Linked DNA regions of Homo sapiens: region 2 is linked to region 1. The links come from fine-mapping of genetic effects on gene expression. A gene starts in region 1. The other region holds a variant in brackets. All regions are shown on one strand. Distances are from middle to middle.

What was found.
Region 2: its variant is fine-mapped to the expression of EEF1B2 in lung (TOPMed, PIP 0.94).

What each region holds. Positions count from the first base shown.
Region 1 is chr2:206,156,927-206,162,308 of GRCh38, reverse strand. EEF1B2 (eukaryotic translation elongation factor 1 beta 2) reads right to left here and starts at 2,414. Exons shown (of 6, transcript NM_001959.4): 1 at 2,250-2,414; 2 at 1,599-1,721; 3 at 837-963; 4 at 205-271. The coding sequence starts at 2,329. It overlaps NDUFS1 (NADH:ubiquinone oxidoreductase core subunit S1), which reads left to right and starts at 2,865. Exons shown (of 19, transcript NM_005006.7): 1 at 2,865-2,968. It overlaps SNORD51 (small nucleolar RNA, C/D box 51), which reads right to left and starts at 428; the gene lies at 359-428. SNORA41 (small nucleolar RNA, H/ACA box 41) reads right to left here and starts at 81; the gene lies at 1-81. RefSeq lists a silencer at 2,078-2,147 and enhancers at 2,408-2,667, 2,778-3,187.
Region 2 is chr2:206,094,595-206,099,976 of GRCh38, reverse strand. No RefSeq gene overlaps it. Among named protein-coding and RNA genes, the nearest start is that of INO80D, 11 kb to the right of the region's middle. The variant A/T (reference allele first, on the strand shown) is at 2,304.

The sequences.
Region 1 (5,382 bases):
GTTTGTGTTAACAGTTTCTTTCCCACAGAGGAATGCCACAACTGCTACCATAAGAACAGCTGCAGACCAGTAGCTGTGGAAGAACCTGTACAGGTTTTAAAATATTGACCTATTCAAGGAATGTGGAGGAAATTACTTCAAGGTCAAGCTTTGAAAAAGATTACTTACATTAACATGAAATGAAGTTAAAAACAAATGACCTACTTTTGGCTTTCTTTGATTCATATTGTGCAAGACGTTCTTCCCTTAGCCTCTTTGCTTCTTCACTTTCCTGTAAAGAAAAAAAATTAATCCACTTCAGAAAGCTGGTTGTTCCTCTGCTTAAAGCTAGTGGGGTCATCACAAAAAAGACTGGCTTAATCAGAAAAAAGCAAATCCATCACGAACTCAGCCGAAAGATGGTGATTTGATTTTATTCATCATGCAACCAGTCAGAATTTGAAAAAGGCATATAAATTAAAGCCAGGATTCAAATCCAGGCAATTTGGCTTAACCACATTGATACAATTGCTGATCGATGTATTCTTTTTTTTTTTTTTTGGGACGGAGTCTCGCTCTGTCGCCCAGGCTGGATGCAGTGGCACGATCTTGGCTCACTGCAACCTCCGCTTCCTAGGTTCAAGCAATTCTCTGCCTTAGCCGCCTGAGTAGCTGGGATTACAGATGCCTGCCACATTTTTTTGTATTTTTAGTACAGACAGGGTTTCACCATCTTGGCCAGGCTGGTCTTCAACTCCTGACCTCGTGATCCACCCGCCTCAGCCTCCCAACATGCTGGGATTACAGGCATGAGCCACTGCGCCTGGCCGATATGTTCTTTATAGAAGACGCCATACCTCCTCATCATCAGATCCAAAGAGGTCAATGTCATCATCATCTTTACTATCTGTAGCTCCACTTCCTGTAGTGTCTTCCACATCGGCAGGACCATATTTGCCCAAAGCTTTCTTCACTCCTGGCAGGCTTGAAAAACATTTAAATTCAACCACTATTGAGCTAGTATAACATCCTTTTCCAGAAAATACAAAATAACTTGTTTTAATCACTACTTATCACTAGATCCCTTTTGCAATCATAATTTACCCTTTCACATGCGCCCAGGTAAACACTGTCATATGTTCAACTCCTCACCCGACAAGCATTAGTACCATGTGAGACATTATTTTCAATACTCACTATGATTTACTCTTTCAGTATGAACATTTCTGTTTGAGATTTCATTAAGTATGCTCAGTTCCATTCTTAGTGAACTGGAGTCCACTTCCCCAAACTTCCACCCTTGTTGGCAGTTTCAGAAGAATGGCCAAGGACTGAATGAATGAGCCACCCTCTCACCCCAGAGGTGGGCCCCCCAGGTCAAGGTCGAGGCACATTGGCAGGGCAGTGTGGGGAAAAGTTGAATTGCTGCTGTCCATGTTCTACCTGTTCTGTGAAAAAATGGAGGGCTTCAGTCTCTTGGCCTTCTAAGGTTACAGAAAAATTTAGCTTACAATATCCCAACAAAACTAAAGTAGCCTGGGTCCAGTTTTGTCATGTGAACATCCTGATAAACTTCGAGAGCAGTCTTATTCTTCAGCTCTATACAAAGATGATTTTACCTGGCCTTTTCCTTTTCGTAAGACTTGATGTGATTATACCAACGTAGGGCATGACACAAGTCGGCAGGCGGTGGGCTGGACACGGCTTCAAATACTGCCACATCTGCTTGTGATGGCACATACCTGCCAAGGACACAGAAACATTCACACACACCTTTGAAAAACAAACGCCAGCGAATAAATAATAAATACCGTATGCATCACATTAATTAGTGGGCACTAACCCCAGCAGGGTTGCTTTAATGCTTTTCTTTTCTTATTAGCTCCTTCAAATCAAACCATATGTTTGGGTCACCGCGCTATCCTGAGAAATGTCTGCCACTAAGTAGACCTCAAATACTGCAATGTCTGGCGTTGCTCTATCTACAGCTTAACATGTATTAACTGGGCAGCGATGCGGAAACACCTGGCTGAATTAAGTGTAAATAAAGCACATTTTAACCTTTCCTTGCTCGTGAACCGCTCCCCGGAGGCCGGGCTCGCCCCACACGAGGGCCTTGGGAGACGGCAACGGGGCGCTTTCCCCTCCCTCTCGAAAGGGCCCCGGGCCCGGCCTCCCTCCCTCCCGCGGCAGCCGACACGCTGCGCCACGTGGCCCCGGCCCCGGGCGGAGAAACCTCCCCGCCACCCCGACTCAGCCCGTCCGCTCACCCCTCGATGTAGCTCTTGTCCGCCAGGTAATCGTTGAGCACCTGGAGGCCGGCAGGGCTTTTCAGGTCTCCGAAACCCATGGTGTCGGCTGTATCCGAGAGCTGGGGAGCAGCAGAAAGAGAGCGCGCAAATTGTGGGCGCCCCACGCTGAAGAGAGGAAAAAGGACCCGAAGAGACCGGAAAATTCCTTATATAGAGACGGAGGCGTTTCCCTCCACCGCGCCGGACCGAAGGTTAAAGGTCAAAGTACTTTTGCATTCCCACTTCTCCACGTACGAATTGGGGGCCCTGAATTAAATGGCCCACAAATTGTCCATGGACCTTTCGTTGCGTTTGGAAGTAAATTAATAAAATAGGCATGTCTTAAGTTCGTACCTCCACGGCTCCCGAAGATGACGGGAACCAGCCCTAGAAGCGCCGGAGATGACCGAAGACGCCCGGCCTCGAGGCTGGGGCCACTTCCGGCGGAACTGCGGGTCCAAGTTGTCCTTCCCGCCTCCGGGCTGGGCCGACCTCAGCTCCGCCCTCTGGTCGGCTGACGGAAATTGCCGACAAACTTGTCGAATGCAAGGATTCTAGTCCCTCCGGGCTTTCCGTTCTCCAGGCCCGGCTGACAGAGTTAGCCGAGGCCGCCATATTGAATAAGCGACCCGGCCTCCTAGGGGGTCGTCGTGGTCCAGACAGTTTAGCAGAACAGCCTCCGCGGCTCCGGGGAGAAGGTGAGGTCTTGTATGGATGGGAAGGGTGAGGTGCGTCGGCCAGAGGCTTATTTATTGACGGGACTGTTTCCTTTGGCCCACGCGACGTAGTCTTCTGTTGTCCTTGACTGGGCGCCGCCTCCCGCCCCGCCGCCTCGGAAGCCCCTGAGAGCCGGCAGATGGGGGGCTTTTAGCCACGGTCTCTGGTCTGATGAAGCAGAAAAGAAGATGAGGATCAGGGGGTCCTCGGGAACGCTGTCACGAATGTAGGCTTGCAGGTGACCTTCCCTCTGCAGGGAAAATTCAGGACATTTCCCTCTCAGAGGAGGAGGCCGTTTTATTCCCCGGGAGAGGACCAGTGTCCGATGACTTAGGCCTTAAGACTAAGCCTTTCCCCCCAGATTTTTACACGCCTGATACAGTGCATGATTGTTTGGTCGCTGTTGTGTTAGCAATGGCTCACGCTTCTGTTTGTTGTCCTTGTTTGTTTGGTCCATTGACCACGTTGGACAGCATTTTTTTATTCCTTTAACTAACGGGAAATTGAGAAAAACGACTTTTGAAAAGTTAGCCCAGGATTGCATTGCAAATAACAAAACGTTGTTTACAGGTTATTGGGATCCAGTGCTTGAACTGTAAGGTCTTGGATCAGACACAACTCTGTTCACACACGAATTGACGGTATAGAAGTGTAACGTTAACTGTTTTTGATGAATAAACAAGTTATTTTTGTTTTGCGGAATATTCTTGTTTTCACCGACTTAAGGCTGCCAGAGCACCTGCACTTTTTAAATCCGGGAAAGTGGTCTCTACAAATTAACGACCAGAAATTAGAGATTCAGTTCACTTAACCGTTATTGAACATTTACTACGAGCCAGAAATGAGTCCGTAAAGAAGAATAAAATGGATGATATGCTGGGGGAATCGTAAATGTTAGATAGCCTGGTCAATGAAACTGAGAAAAGGCTTTTAAGCCAAGATTTGAAGGATAAGGAGGGGCCAGGGAAGAGCATTTCAGTCTGAGGTCACAGCCGGTGGCAAGAGGGGAGAGGCTGTGTGGGAATAGTGTGGAAGCTTGGTGACCTGTTAAGCTATTGAAGGCCGGAGGCGGTGGCTCACTCCTGTAATCCCACCACTTTGGGAGGCCGAGGCGGGCGGATCACGAGGCCAGGAGATCGAGACCATCCTGGCTAACACGGTGAAACCCTGTCTCTACTAAAAATACAAAAAATTAGCTGGGCGTGGTGGCGGGCGCCTGTAGTCCAGCTACTTGGGAGGCTGAGGCAGGAGGCTGGCGTGAACCCGGGTGGCGGGGCTTGCAGTGAGCCGAGATCGCTCCGCTGCACTCCAGCCTGGGCGACAGAGCGAGACTCTGTCTCAAAAAAAAAAAAAAAAAAGCTATTGAAATACTCCAGGCAAGGAGTGATGGTGGATTGGGATAGGGTGGTACCTTGGAAGGCAAGAAGTAAATGGATGGATCCATGTTGGAGAACGTGGAATAGCATAGTCCCTATATGGAAAAGTATCCAGTCTAGTTTAAGAAATGATTAGTCATTAACATTTTCCATCCAAAGAGATAATTATTTCTATTGCTACTTGGCATATCAATGTTCAAAGCACATATCGAAGTGTTGCAAATCTGTATTTCTTATGTTGGGCTATGCTTTGTTGCTGGATGTCAACAGTCTAGTTCTAGTTGATTTCCTATCCAAAGTGAGTACTATTTTTATATTGCATTGGAGATAAAAAAGTATTAAAGTTTTAAAATTGTATGAAATACTGATTGTTGATTTCAAATCTGTCAGTGCTCTAATGGAGTAAGTTTAGGTTTATATTTATGCCATCAGTAGTTTTTAATAGGACAGATGCTACTCTAGTTCTAGAACTTGGTGATAAGACTGTTTGGTGGTTATTTTCATAAGGGTCCTGTGCTAGGTCTTCAAAAAAGGGAAATGTCCAAATTCCTTGTCCTCAAGGAGCTTACAGTCTGGTAGGTACTAAAATTGATTACTAACCTACAGTTTAGTAAGTAAAACAAAAATATCTACACAGTGTGTACTGGTACTAAAGAAAAAGAGCTCAAAGAAAGAGTGCTTTAAAATTGGTTGTCTGCCAGGCGCGGTGACTCACGTCTGTAATCCCAACACGTTGGGAGGTCGACGCGGGTGGATCACTGAGGTCAGGAGTTTGAGACCAGCCTGGCCAACATGGCGAAACCCCTTCTCTACTGAAAATACAAAAATTAGCCGGGCGTGATGACAGGTGCCTGTAATCCCAGCTACTTGGGAGGCAAGAGAATTGCTTGAACTTGGGAGGCGGAGGTTGCAGTGAGTCAAGATCACACCATTGCACTACAACCTGGGTGACAGAGTGAGACTCTGTCTCAAAACACACACACATACTGATTGTCAGTGGCCAGTATTGCCTAAGTTGA
Region 2 (5,382 bases), 62 kb after region 1:
AAAATAAAAAATAGCCAGGCATGGTGGTTCAAGTCAGCAGTCCCAATTACTTGAGAGGCTGAGGTAGGAGGATCACTTGTGTCTAGGAGTTCAAGGCTGCAGTGAGCTGTGATTGTGCCACTGCACTCCAGCTTGGCAACAGAGTGAGAACCTGTCTCAAAAAAAGAAAAGAAAAAAGAAAAAGAACATTAGTGGGAAACTGGTGAAATCTGAATATGTCTGTACTTAACAACAAGATGACAATAAGATACACTTGAATTATTTCTCTCTAGAATTGGGCTAGTCTATGTAATCTTAAGCAATTCACTTGCTAGTACTTGTTTTTTCCAATTGTTAAGATGAAAAGTGTCTGTAATGTGCTTTAAGATTCTTAGCTGAAATAGTAACAGTTATGTTGCTTACTGTTTTCATTTTAATAATTCTATTTTCCTTTAAGGGAGCTTAATTTTGGAAGAGTTAGTGTGCTTCAAGAGCCTTTTTTTTTTTTTTGACGGAGTCTTGCTCTGTCGCCCAGGCTGGAGTGCAGTGGGGTAATCTCGGCTCACTGCAACCTCCGCCTCCTGGATTCAAGAGTTTCTCCTGTCTCAGCCTCCCGAGTAGCTGGGATTACAGGCGCACACTACCACGCCCAGCTACTTTTTTGTATTTTAGTAGAGACGGGATTTCACCGTGTTGCCCAGGCTGGTCTTGAACTCCTGAGCTCAGGCAACCCAGCCACCTTGGCCTCCCAAAGTGCTAGGATTAAAGGCGTGAGCCACCGCGCCCGGCCTGCTTCAAAAGACTTAACATGCAGTCCGCGAGGTGGCTCACGCCTGTAATCCCAGCACTTTGGGAAGCCGAGGCGGGCGGATCACTTGAGGTCAGGAACAACCTGACCAACATGAAGAAACCCCGTCTCTACTAAAAATACAAAATTAGCCGGGCGTGGTGGCACGTGCCTGTAATCCTAGCTACTCCGGAGGCTGAGGCAGGAGAATCCCTTGAACACAGGAGGCGGAAGTTGCGGTGAGCCAAGATTGCGCCATTGCGCTCCAGCCTGGGCAACAAGAGTGAAACTCTGTCTTAGAAAAAAAAAAGACTTAACATGCCACAACATTATAATAATTTTGATGCAGTAGTATAGATTAATGAAAGTAAATATATGCTGGGCATGGTGGCACATGTCTATAATCCCAGCTAATTGGCAGGATTGCTTGAGCCCAGGAGCTCGAGACCAGCCTGGGCAACGTATTGAGACCCTGTCTCTACAAAAAGAAAAACAAAAAAATTAGCCATGCATAGTGGGGCACCTGTGGTCCCAGCTACTCACCGCTTAGGAGGCTGAAGTGGGAGGATCACTTGAGCCTGGGAGGTCGGGACTGCAGTGAGCCAAGATCTGCACTCCAGCCTGGACAACAGAGCACGACTCTGTCAAAAAAAAAAGAGTTCTTTTTTCTTTTTGAGACGGAGTCTCGCTCTGTCTCCCAGGCTGGAGTGCAGTGGCCCGATCTCGGCTCACTGCAGGCTCCGCTCCCCAGGTTCACGGCATTCTCCTGCCTCAGCCTCCCGAGTAGCTAGGACTACAGGCGCCTGCCACCTCGCGCGGCTAATTTTTTGTACTTTTAGTAGAGACAAGGTTTCACCGTGTTAGCCAGGATGGTCTCGATCTCCTGACCCCGTGATCCGTCCGCCTCGGCCTCCCAAAGTGCAGGGATTACAGACGGGCACTTGCACCCGGCCGATTCATTGAGTTCTGTACTGAAAGACAGAATAGTTGTATGGTTACCATGGTAAAGCTGAAAAATCCTAAGTCAAACCATGGTAAATCAGGGACCATCTGTACTAAGTCGTCCAGTTTTTTTTTTTTTTTTTCTTTTGAGACACAGTCTTGATCTGCCGCCCAGGCTAGAGTGCAATGGCACGATATTGGCTAACTGCCACCTCCGCCTCCTGGGTTCAAGCAAGTCTCCTGGTTCAGCCTCCGGAGTAGCTAGGAGATTACAGGTGCCTGCCACCACGCCCAGCTAATTTTTGTATTTTTAGTAGAGACGTGGTTTCACCATGTTGGCCAGGCTGGTGTCGAACTTCTGACCTCAGGTGATCCACCTGCCTCAGTCTCCCAAAAGTGTTGGGCTTACAGGCGTGAGCCACCGTGCCCGGCCCAATCTTCCTGCCTCAGTATCCAAGTGATGGGATTATAGGCATGAGCCTCTGCGTCCAGCCAACACTTCATTGTAAAATGACTTTGTGTTTAATGATTCTGCCCAGTTGTAGGCTATTGTAAGTGTTCCAAGCTCATTTAAGGTAGGCTAGGCTAAGCTATG[A/T]TGTTTGGTGGATTAGGTACATTAAATGCATTTTTTATTTAAGAATATTCCCAATTCGCAATAGGTTTATCATGATGTGACCCCATAACACCTGTACATTGTGGAGGCTTTTTGTTATTGGTTTGGTGTTTGCTTTTTGCTTTTATTTCAGAATAAGGAGTTAGCATGTGTGACATAGTAAGAAATAGATATATATGTGTATATATATAGAGAGAGAGATATGTATATATATGTGTATCTATCTATCTATCTATTTGGACTTTGTCCCTGATTTTTGACACAGAGCTCTTAAAACTGCCATTTCTTGAGTGATAGGGATGATAGGAGCGTCGTTTGTTCTAATATTTGGTCTCTGTCCCCAGTTTCCGACACAGAGCTCCTTAATCTCTTGGAATTTCCTGGTTGATAGAAGCATCTTTTGTTCTACTGAGGTTTCTTGCTGGGGCCCTAGATAGCTTCAGGATGGGGCCTGGTCACCAGAAAGACTAGACCTTGATGAGAAGCCTGGAACTTTCAGCCCATCCCCTCAATATGTGGGGAAGTGTGAAGAGCTGAAGACTGAGTTAATAATTGGTCATCCTGATTTGACAAAACCTCCATAAAAACCCCTAATGACAGGTTCAGTGAGCTTCTGGGTTGGTGAACACATCAAATTGCTAGGAGGGTGGTGTGCCCAGAGAGGGCGCGGGGCTTCCAACACCCCTGCCAATATCTTGCTCTCTGCATCTCTTCTGTTTGGCTGTTCCCAAGTTATATCTTTTATAAAGAGCCAGTAAATATTAATATAAGAGTGCTCCTGAGTTCTGTGAGTCATTGTAGCAAATTATCAAGCTGAAGGGGAGAAAGTTGTGGGAACTCCCTGACTTTGTACCCAAGAAGTGTGTGTGGGTAACCTGGGGACCCAATACTTGCGAATGGCATTGGAATTGAGGACTCTTTAAAACCTGTGGAGTCTGCTGCTAATGCTGGGCCGTTAATGTTAGAATTGAATTGAATTGTAGGATACCCCGTTGGTGTCCGGAAAGTTGGAGAATTGGTTGGTGTGAGAAAAAATTCACACATTTGATGTCAGAATTTCTGAGGAAAAATAGCTCGGCATGTAAAACCATAAATACACAAAATCCTTTCAGACAGCTTAAAAGAATGCACATGTTCCAAGTTTTCTGAACTCAAGTCAAGATAAAGAGATAGAAGCAAAAATGAACTCAGTAATGTATTACTCTAATAGTTTGATTCAGAGAAAATAAAAACTCCCTTCTAACAGGAAAAAAAAAAGACAAATGGCCTGCATAGTGCAGTTACGTGAGCTTTCTAATAATGCAAACGGCAGTCTGTTATTTCCCTACAATTTTTTTTCTTAGCTTCATTTCAGAGAGGACACAAACCGTAGAAATTGAATGATAACTTATCATATCATTGATCATCATTGTATGAAGTGTTCAGTTTGCAGCTCATAAATTTAGGTAACATCATTTTTCCCCTCCTCCTCAATAGAGAGAGACATAATGGTTACTGTCTAGCTCAACGCTGGCTTAACGGCCTCCTCTGAGGTTAATGTTAACATCATTCTGGACAGGGCAACAGGAAGCATCTGTATATCTTACCACAAAATGAGATGATCCATTTTCCCCCCATTTGAAATATAAATTCTGTTGGTATTAAATTACTTAATTGCTCTTGCTTTATATATACATTTAAAATATTTAGATATATTGTAGTAATAGCCTTAGAGAAAATTAAAATGACTTATGATTATGTAAATATTCCTTTAGTTTTTCCCAGTTGGTCAATATAGGTTCTTATTTTTTTTCTCTCTATGATTTAAAGGAAACTTGGGTTATGAAGGCTATTCTTACAATCTTTTTTTGTTCTTATGTTCTAGAACCACTGATGGTGACAACAGAACTCAGGGAATGTTAGTCAATTAACAGCTGCCAAGTTACCCAGAGAAGCAGATGGTATATCTGATCATGTCCTACAAAATGTGAAAAGGGAATACTCAAAGATGTTTGCTCAAATATGCTAGAGTTTCCACACAAAAGGCTATAATGGCAACCATATATATTTTTACATCTTCTATGTTTGCTTTTTACTCCAGGTGATTCTCTTATATTCCATTTTTAAATTTTTTGACCTGTACGGCTAGTCATCTTAAAATAACCTAGGATATGCACACGTTTTAAGTATCTTTGGCAATAGAAATGCACAACAGAAATATGTCAATAGAAAAGAAAAAGAATACTTAATACCACTCCCAGGTTTTTAAACTAGAGTATGGCCAATTGGAATATAATGCTTGAGGGTGGCTGAAATAACTAGAATTACACAGATATTTTGCTAATCATCTTGGACTTTTGTAGTGAGATGGTTAGAAAGTCCATGCTCAATTCCTCAGAGTCCTTCTCATTTAACCATCTAAAAGCCATACCTTAATTATCAAATAGTAAAGAATCCAAAATCTCAAATATTCATTAATCCAACAAATATTTACGGTGTATATTTCATCCCAGGCAGTGTTCAAGAGGCCAAATGAACAAACTAGACAAAAACAAAACAAAAAAAGACAAAATCTCCAGGCTTCGTGGAGCTTATATTTTCAAAAGCTTATATTTATAAAAGCTTACATATCAAGAGGATCTATATAAAAATAAATAACCCTAAAACAATAATTCTTTTGTCTCTTGCCAGACTGAAGACACTCGCAGGCAGGAGCTGTTTCCCCAATATCCTTACCACCTGTGCCTAGCACACTGTAAGTGATTTATAGACACTTCTTGAATACGTATGTATGTATCTATTATTATTAAAAAAATTTTTTTCAACCTTTTCAGCTCAAGCGATCCTCCTGCCTCAGCCTCCCAAATAGCTGGGACTACAGGCTCATGCCACCACAAGTGGCATATACACACACACACACACACACACACGTAGACACACACACATATACACATACACATATACACACATACATATATACATATGTGTGTGTGTGTGTGTGTGTGTGTGTGTAGAGTCTCCTCTATTGCCCAGGCTGGAGTGCAGTAGTGTGATCTACGCCCACAGCAACCTCCGCCTCCCA